2 separate regions of the Homo sapiens genome follow, and region 2 is linked to region 1. The links come from fine-mapping of genetic effects on plasma protein levels. A gene starts in region 1. The other region holds a variant in brackets. All regions are shown on one strand. Distances are between the middles of the regions.

Evidence for each region. PIP is the posterior inclusion probability: the model's chance that the variant is causal. Sun 2018 read protein levels with aptamers (SomaScan).
Region 2: its variant is fine-mapped to the plasma level of the ERBB3 protein (Sun 2018, PIP 0.95).

Annotation. Positions count from the first base shown.
Region 1 is chr12:56,077,624-56,082,007 of GRCh38, forward strand. ERBB3 (erb-b2 receptor tyrosine kinase 3) reads left to right here and starts at 2,542. Exons shown (of 28, transcript NM_001982.4): 1 at 2,542-2,759. The coding sequence starts at 2,678. RefSeq lists enhancers at 325-374, 2,199-3,189.
Region 2 is chr12:56,055,816-56,060,199 of GRCh38, forward strand. No RefSeq gene overlaps it. Among named protein-coding and RNA genes, the nearest start is that of RPS26, 16 kb to the left of the region's middle. The variant C/G (reference allele first, on the strand shown) is at 1,905.

The DNA.
Region 1 (4,384 bases):
TGCCCACCTGTAGACTCAGTTACTAGGGAGGCTGAAGTGGGAGAATCACCTGAGCCTGGGAAGTTGAGGCTGCTGTGAGCCATGATTGCACCACTGCACTCCAGCCTGGGTGACAGAGGGAGATCCTGTCTCAAAAAAAGGAAAAAAAGCCAGGTGTGGTGGCTCACACCTGTAATCCCAGCACTTTGGGAGGCTGAGGTGGGTGGATCACCTGAGGTCAGGAATTAGAGACTAGTCTGGCCATCACAGTGAAACCCCATCTCTACTAAAAATACAAAAAATTAGCCGGGCTTGGTGGCGCACGCCTTGTAGCCCCAGCTACTTGGAAGCCTGAGGCAGGAGAATCACTTGAACTCAGTAGTGAGCTGAGATCAGGCCACTGCACTCCAGCCTGGGTGACAGAAACAGAACAAGATTCCGTGTCAAAAAAAAAAAAGCAACAGACCAGAAGGCCATGAGGTCAAACAAAACAATGTTTTGTTTTTGTTTTGAGATGGCGTCTCACTCTGTCGCCCAAGCTGGAGTGCAGTGATGCAATCTCAGCTCACTGCAACCTCCACCTCCCGGGTTCAAGCGATTCTCCTGCCTCAGTCTCCTAAGTAGCTGGGATTACAGGTGCCCACCATCATGCCCAGCTAATTTTTGTATTTTTAGTAGAGACGGTGTTTCACTATGTTGACTAGGCTGGTCTCGAACTCCTGACCTCAAGTGATCTGCCCGCCTCGGCCTCCCAAAGTGCTGGGATTACAGGCATGAGCCACCGCGCCCAGCCGAATGTTTTGTTTTTTAAGATGGAAGATATCCCAGCACTTTGGCAGGCTGAAGCAGGTGGATCATTCCAGCTTGGGCAACAAGAGCGAAACTCTGTCTCAAAAAAAAAAAAAAAGAAAAGAAAAAAAAAGAGAGAAAGAAACCCTAGGTAAAAGTCTGAGCCCCACCTCCCAATCACCTGATCACCTCAACCACTGTCACCAGGTGGATGACCTTGGAGAGGTCACACACTTCTAGTTCTGTAAAATGGGGAGTTATATTGCCTAAATCATATAATTTTTATGTTAAGTGACACATTCTCTAAGGCACTAAGTTTGAGGACATACTTTGTAAATGAAATGATATATGGAAATGTTTGTATATGTTAATGGTTTTGTTGTTGCTATTATTATTATGACTACTATACACATGGTCTGGAGAAAGCCAACCTCCCCAAAGCGGAGATTCTCCAGTAGAGAACAGGCCCTCTAGGTTGCATATCAATAGGGAGCATGTTTAAGGAATGTTAGCCGGTAGTCTTTGCTAGGTGTGAGGGGTGAAATTTTTCTTTATCAAGGCTCAACTGTTTTCGAAGTCTTCAGGCTTGAAGTTCTGGAGAAAACAACTAGGCTCTCCGGGCGAGATCCCGAATACCAGTTTAAGGGATTTGAAATGCAAGGCCGTCTGGGACTCCACTGCCACGGATGGGCACCAGGCGGCGCCGGTCGGATCCGTCCCGGGACTAGCAGGGCTTTGGGCAGCAACCCGCAGGGAGCCCGACCGCCTCTGGCCAGGTCCGGGCAGCTGGTGGGGGAGGTTCCAGAGGTCCACGCCATTCGTGGACGCAGTCTCTAGTGTCCTCTCCGCGTCCCACTTCACTGCCCCATCCCCTTTCCTGCGAGAGCCTGGACTTGGAAGGCACCTGGGAGGGTGTAAGCGCCTTGGTGTGTGCCCATCTGGGTCCCCAGAAGAGCGGCGGGAACTGCGGCCGCCCGGACGGTGCGGCCAGACTCCAGTGTGGAAGGGGAGGCAGCTGTTCTCCCAGGCGGCCGTGGGGGGCAGCAGAGGGGACGGCGACAGGTGCGGGAGCCCCTCCCGGGGTAGAAGTGGAAAGGCGGGCTCCGGGGTCTGTTCCCAGGCTGGAAACCACCCCCGCCCCCCATCCAAATCCCCGGGAGAGGCCCGGCCGGCGCCGGGTCTGGAGGAGGAAGCGGCCAGAGACAGTGCAATTTCACGCGGTCTCTGTGGCTCGGGTTCCTGGGCTGGGTGGATGAATTATGGGGTTTCGAGTCTGGGAGAAACTGAGGTGGCCTGGACGTGAGGCAAAAAACACCCTCCCCCTCAAAAACACACAGAGAGAAATATTCACATTCTGAGAGAAAATCCACCAAGTGAACCAACCGGCTAGGGGAGTTGAGTGATTTGGTTAATGGGCGAGGCCAACTTTCAGGGGGCAGGGCTTTGGAGAGCTTTCCACTCCCTCATTCATTACCCTTCCCTGGATCTGGGGGCTTTCGGAATCTCGACCTCCCCTTGGCCTATCTCCTGCAGAAAAATTAGGGTGAGCCCCATCCTCGATCTGCTCCGCCAAGTTGCGGGACCGCGGGGCGTGGCACGCTCGGGGCAGGCGGTCCGAGGCTCCGCAATCCCTACTCCAGCCTCGCGCGGGAGGGGGCGCGGCCGTGACTCACCCCCTTCCCTCTGCGTTCCTCCCTCCCTCTCTCTCTCTCTCTCACACACACACACCCCTCCCCTGCCATCCCTCCCCGGACTCCGGCTCCGGCTCCGATTGCAATTTGCAACCTCCGCTGCCGTCGCCGCAGCAGCCACCAATTCGCCAGCGGTTCAGGTGGCTCTTGCCTCGATGTCCTAGCCTAGGGGCCCCCGGGCCGGACTTGGCTGGGCTCCCTTCACCCTCTGCGGAGTCATGAGGGCGAACGACGCTCTGCAGGTGCTGGGCTTGCTTTTCAGCCTGGCCCGGGGCTCCGAGGTGGGCAACTCTCAGGCAGGTAAGTGGCGCGAGAGCACCGGCGGGCTCGGCACCTGGGAGCCGGAACCCAGTGCGCGCAGCCTCGGAGGGTATGGGCACGGTCTCAGGCGGCGCGGGGTTGTGGGTGCTGCCCCCGGTTTGCCAGGACCACCTGGGAGAGGGGCGGTCAGGCTCGGGTTATCGGCGTGGTCCGGCCGAGGGCGGCATTCCGGGACCCTCACGCCACCCTTCTCCAGAGCGTCGCCGACCCTCTAATTGGTCTCCCCAGAAGAGGCTGAGGCCGAAACAGTAGTTCACACTTCTGAGGGGCCCTGCAGGGAGGGGAGCAGGGAACTTCATTCTGTAAACAGGAGGTGCTTGGAGGTGGGGGCCTTGGCGGGAAGGGTCTCGGTTTGCTCGCCAACCCCCTGCCCCCCACCCGCGCCGATTTCAGCTACCCCTAGTTTCGTTGTTTTGCCGACAGGGCGGAGCTACAGAAGGTTGGAGGGGGTTGTTGTTCTCTGGTGTTGGAAAAACAGGAGCGGCACCTCCTCTTCCGTGAGTGAGCCTGCCCTGGGGAGGTCTGAGATTAACCAGAGGGCCAAGTTCAGGTGACATCAGGCAGGAGGCCCAACAGAGGCTGGCGCCCCCTTTCCTCAGTATAGCAGAGCTTAAGCAACATCTCTTTGTCAAGACCCAGGTCAACACAACTCATATTTATTGAGCATCTACTATACACAAGGCCCTGGGCCAGGAGCTGTAAGGGCAAGGATGTCCAGCCTCTGGTCTTTTCTCTCCCCAACCTGAGGATCAAGAGGGCACCTCTGCTACTTTCTAAGCCTCCTGCCTTGGGGAGTCCTTCCTGGGCTCAGCTTGTGCCTCCCGCCCCCATTTTGCTTATTGTCTGACACTGTCTCTAGGACCCTAGACAGAGCCCCGGATTGCTCTTCTCCAGTCCTCCCCCGACTCCCATGCTATCTGAGCCCACCCCTTTGGGGTGTCTCTGGGACCGTGGACACCTGAGGACTGAAGTTCTGTGGATCTCCTCCCCTCCCCTCAGATCTCAGCTTGGGGTTTGGCACAGCCAGGGCCCCTTCCCCAGTGTGGGAGTGGAAGAAACCACCTGTGCTTCCCTCACAGTTGCTGGGCCTAAATTTAGATCCTGGGATTTTTAGATGTGAACACTCCCAGCTGGTGGAGGGGGGTGGTCTGGGGACTGGCGTGGGAGGGAGCAGTGGAGTGACTGTATAACTGTCCCATCCAGACTCCTGCAATCTTCACCCAGAAACCCAGGAGTACCAGAGTCTGGCCACCCTCCCTGGGGAGGCAGGAGGCAGGCATGGTTGGGTCTCTTTACCCTTTATCTGGGTCCTGCAGCCTCTGGGCATCCGGCCCTGTCTCAGTCCTTCTATAGCCCCTTTGTCCTGGCTGTGATGGGGGTGGGGGATGTTGGAGGGGAGGCCTCTGGTTGAGGAGGGGCTGGAGATTCTGGCTCTATCCCACCCCTAGTGCTCTCTACCAAAGGAGGGCCTGTGACACTGCCCCTCCCTATGCTCCCGGTTCCTGGGTACAGCAGGGATTTTTATGATTCCCTTCCCCTGCCCTGCTCCCCAAGCTGCCTAGCTCCTCCCCAGAGGTGTTGTTTGTGCTCCCTTCCTGCCCAGG
Region 2 (4,384 bases), 22 kb before region 1:
TGGGAGGCCAAGGCAGTAGATCATGAGGTCAGGAGTTTGAGACCAGCCTGGCCAACATAGTGAAACCCCATCTCTACTAAAAATACAAAATTAGTCAGGTGTGGTGGCACATGCCTGTAGTCCCAGCTACTCAGGAGGCTGAGGCAGGAAAATCGCTTGAACCTGGGAGGCGGAGGTTGTGGTGAGCCGAGATCACACCACCGCCCTCCAGCCTGGGCAACAGAGCTAGACTCCATCTCAAAAAAAAAACAAAACAACAACAAAAAAAAAAACAAAAAAAAAAAAACGGCCAGGTGCAGTGGCTTATGCCTGTAATCCAAACACTTTGGGAGGCCAAGACTAGTGCGGTGGATTATGAGGTCAAGAGATCGAGACCATCCTGGACAACATGGTGAAACCCCGTCTCTACTAAAAATACAAAAATTAGCCAGGTGTGGTGGCACTTGTCTGTAATCCCAGCTACTTAGGATGCTGAGACAAGAGAATTGCTTGAACCCAGGAGGCGGAGATTGCAGTGAGCCAAGATCAAGCCACTGTACTCCAGCCTGGGCGACAGAGCAAGACTCTGTCTCAAAAAAAAAAAAAAAATACAATCTCATCACTCCCCCACTGAAATTCTTAAGCTTCTCTCTGTAATTAAAATGTACACTCCTTACTGTGGTATATATGCCCCTGCATGGTCTGGCCCCTCCCTTCCTCTCTAACCACCTCCTCTGCCATGGCCTCCCCATGATTCTTTCTGTTCCACCACACTGGCCTCCTTTCTGTTCCTCAGACCCTCCAAGCTCATTCTTCCTTCAGACCTTATCCCCTCACTAGTTGCTCTGCCAGCAATGCTCTTCTTTCAGGTCAACACAAAACTGGCTCCTTCTTATTTAAAGCTTAGTGCAAATGACACTGCCTCAGAGACCCCCCTTCTTGACCACTCTGTCTAAATTAACTCCTCCAGGTGAGCAGCAGTGGTCACTTTCCCAGTATCTTGTTTCGTTTTCTTCATGCCACTTACTACTGAAGTTATTTCCTGAGTTGTTCATTGGCTGTCTGCACTCTCTAGAATGTAAGCCCCTTGAAGGCAGAAACCTGTCTCTTGTTCTCCTGTGTCCTCAGTGTTTGGAGCAACACATAACACTGAATGAATGAATGCATGCATGCATGCATGTATGGGGGCGCATGAGAAGGATGCAGGTGGCAGGCAGTTGTATTTGTTTCCTCTCGGTGCTGTAACAAATTACCACAAACTCAGTTTTATTATTATTATTATTTATTTTAGTTTTATTTTTTTGAGACAGAGTTTTGCTCTTTTTGCCCAGGCTGGAGTGCAATGGCGTGATCTCAGCTCACTGCAACCTCCGCCTCCCGGGTTCAAGTGATTCTCCTGCCTCAGCCTCCCAAGTAGCTGGGATTACAGGTGCACACCACCACACCCGGCTAATTTTTTGTATTTTTTAAGTACAGACGGGTTTCACCATGTTGTCCAGGATGGCCTCGATCTCTTGACCTCGTGATCCACCCGCCTCGGCCTCCCAAAGTGCTGGGATTACAGGCGTAAGCCACCGTGCCCGGCCAGTTTTATTATCTTATAGTTCTAGAGGTCAGAATCTGAAACGGGCCTTACAGGACTACAAGGTGTTGGTGAAGATGGGTTCCTTCTGGACGCCCTAGGGGAGAATCTATTTCCTTCCCTTTTCAGCTTCTAGAGGCTGCCCGAATTCCTTGGCTGAGGTTGCAGTGAGCCAAGATCGCGCCATTGCACTCCAGCCTGGGCAACAAGTGCAAAATTCTGTCTCAAAAAAAAAAAAAAAATTGGTCTGGGTGCACCAATTTTACTAGTCCCTGGATGTTTCAAAGATAAATCAGATGCAGGCCAGGTGGCTCATGCCTGTAATCCCAACACTTTGGGAGGC[C/G]GAGGCAGAGGATTACTTGAGGACAGGAGTTTGAGATCAGCCTGGGCAACATAGCAAGACCCTCTTTCTTTCTCTCTTTCTTTTTTTTTTTTTTTTTTTTTTTTTGAGACGGAGTCTGGCTCTGTCACCCAGGCTGGAGTGTAGTGGCGCCACCTCGGCTCACTGCAAGCTCCGCCTCCCAGGTTCATGCCATTCTCCTGCTTCAGCCTCCCAAGTAGCTGGGACTACAGGTGCCCTCTGCCACGCCTGGCTAATTTTTTGTATTTTTAGTAGAGACGGGGTTTCGCCATGTTAGCCAGGATGGTCTCGATCTCCTGGCCTCGTGATCCACCCACCTCGGCCTCCCAAAGTGCTGGGATTACAGGCGTGAGCCACAGCACCTGGCCTCTTGCTTTCTTGCTTTCCACTCTCTTTCTTTCTTCCTTCCCTCTCTCTCTTTTCTTTTCCTTTTCTTTAATTTTCCTTTTGTTTTCTTTCTTTTTTGAGACAGAGTCTCACTCTCTTGCCCAGGCTGGAGTGCAGTGGCACACTCTCAGTTCACTGCAACCTCCGTCTTCCAGGTTCAAGCGATTCTCTTGCCTCAGCATCCTGAGTAGCTTACAGGCACCTGCCACCACGCCCAACTAATTTTTATATTTTTAGTAGAGACAGGGTTCACCATCTTGGCCAGGCTGGTCTTGAACTCCTGACCTTAGATGATCCGCCTGCCTTGGCCTCAACTTAGACCTTAGCATCACCAAAAACTGTACCATCTTAGAAATTTCAACCCCAAATCTCCAATAATCTCCTTTTAGCTCACTTACTCAACCATGCCACCTCAACAATTTGTGTCCTTCACGTTCACTGCAATCCATTGATCTTACCATTTCCCCAGCATCCAGCAGTCTCCACATATTTCTTCAAGAATCTTGGTTTCTTTAATGAGAAATGATAATTAGAGTTGGGCATAGTGGCTCACACCTGTAATCCCTGTGACTTGGAAGACTGAGGCAAGATGATCACTTGAGTCCAGGAGTTTGAGACCAGACTGGGGAAAAATAGTGCCCAATGGTCTCCACAAAAATAAAAAACTTGGCTGGGGGGCTGGGTGTGGTGGCTCACACCTGTAATCCCAGCAATTTGGGAGGCTGAGGAGGGTGGATCACCTGAGGTCAGGAGTTCGAGATCAACCTAGCCAACATGGTGAAACCCCATCTCTACTAAAAATACAAAAATTATCTGGGCATGGTGACGGGTGCCTGTAATCCCAGCTACTCGGGAGGCCGAGGCAGGAGAATCACTTGAACCTGGGAGGCAGAGGTTACGGTGAGCTGAGATGATGCTGTTGCTCTCCAGCCTGGGGGACAATAGTGAAACTCTATCTCAAAAAAATAAAAAGTGAAAAAAAACTTGGTAGGGTGCTGTGGCATGTACCCATAGTTCCAGCTACTTGGGAGGATGAGGCAGGAGGATTGCTGCAGTAAGCTATGATTGGGTCACTGCACTCCTGCCTGAACAACAGAGTGAGACTCAACTGTAAAAGAAAAAAAAAGGTCATTAGAGACTACCATCTCTGCACCAGGATGCTCATTACTATTGAAGATGCTCATTACTATTGGGTTTGTCAAATTTGGGACTACAAAACTACAAAAAGTCTGTGTTTTCTTTCTTCCATCAAGAGTCATGGTTCTTACGGACACAGAAATGGGAGAATTAGAACATTCCATAATTCCTTATTTGTTTTATCCTACACAATACATTAAACAGTCTCAGAATAACTAGTAGTACTACCTTCGTCATTATGATTACTAAAAACATATTTAAACTTTTTTTGTAAATGCTATTTCCTTTCTCCTTATTTTTTATGGTTATAATGTCTACATTATCAGATCATATGGCCATTACATACTATACTCTCTCTTTTACCTTCATTAGTCTCATTTCCATGAGTAACTAATATACAGTACTGACTCTCAGCCCTTCTGTTGACATCTCTCTAGTTGTCTGAAGTGCACTCTCTAGTGGATTTCTCAGGAAGGGGTCGTGGGAAAAATAATCCCTGAGTCCCTACATATTGATAACAATTTGTCTGTGCCCATTATCGTTGAAGATTAGCTTTGCTTTGGCTCACCTGTTCTTCCTTTTTATTTATTTATTTATTATTATTATGTTTTGAGATGGAGTCCCGCTCTGTCGCCCAGGCTGGAGTGCAGTGGTGCAATCTTGGCTCACTGCAAGCTCCGCTTCCCGGGTTCAAGCGATTCTCCTGCCTCAGCCACCCAAGTAGCTGGGATTACAGGCACACGCCACCATGCCTGGCTATTTCATATATATATATATTTTTAGTAGAGATGGGATTTCACCATGTTGGCCAAGCTGGTCTCCAACTCCTGACCTCAGGCGATCCGCCCACCTCAGCCTCCCAAAATGCTGGGATTACAAGGCGTTGAGTCACCACGCCTGGCTTGTTATTCCTTAAATATTTAAAATATGTCAGCTAG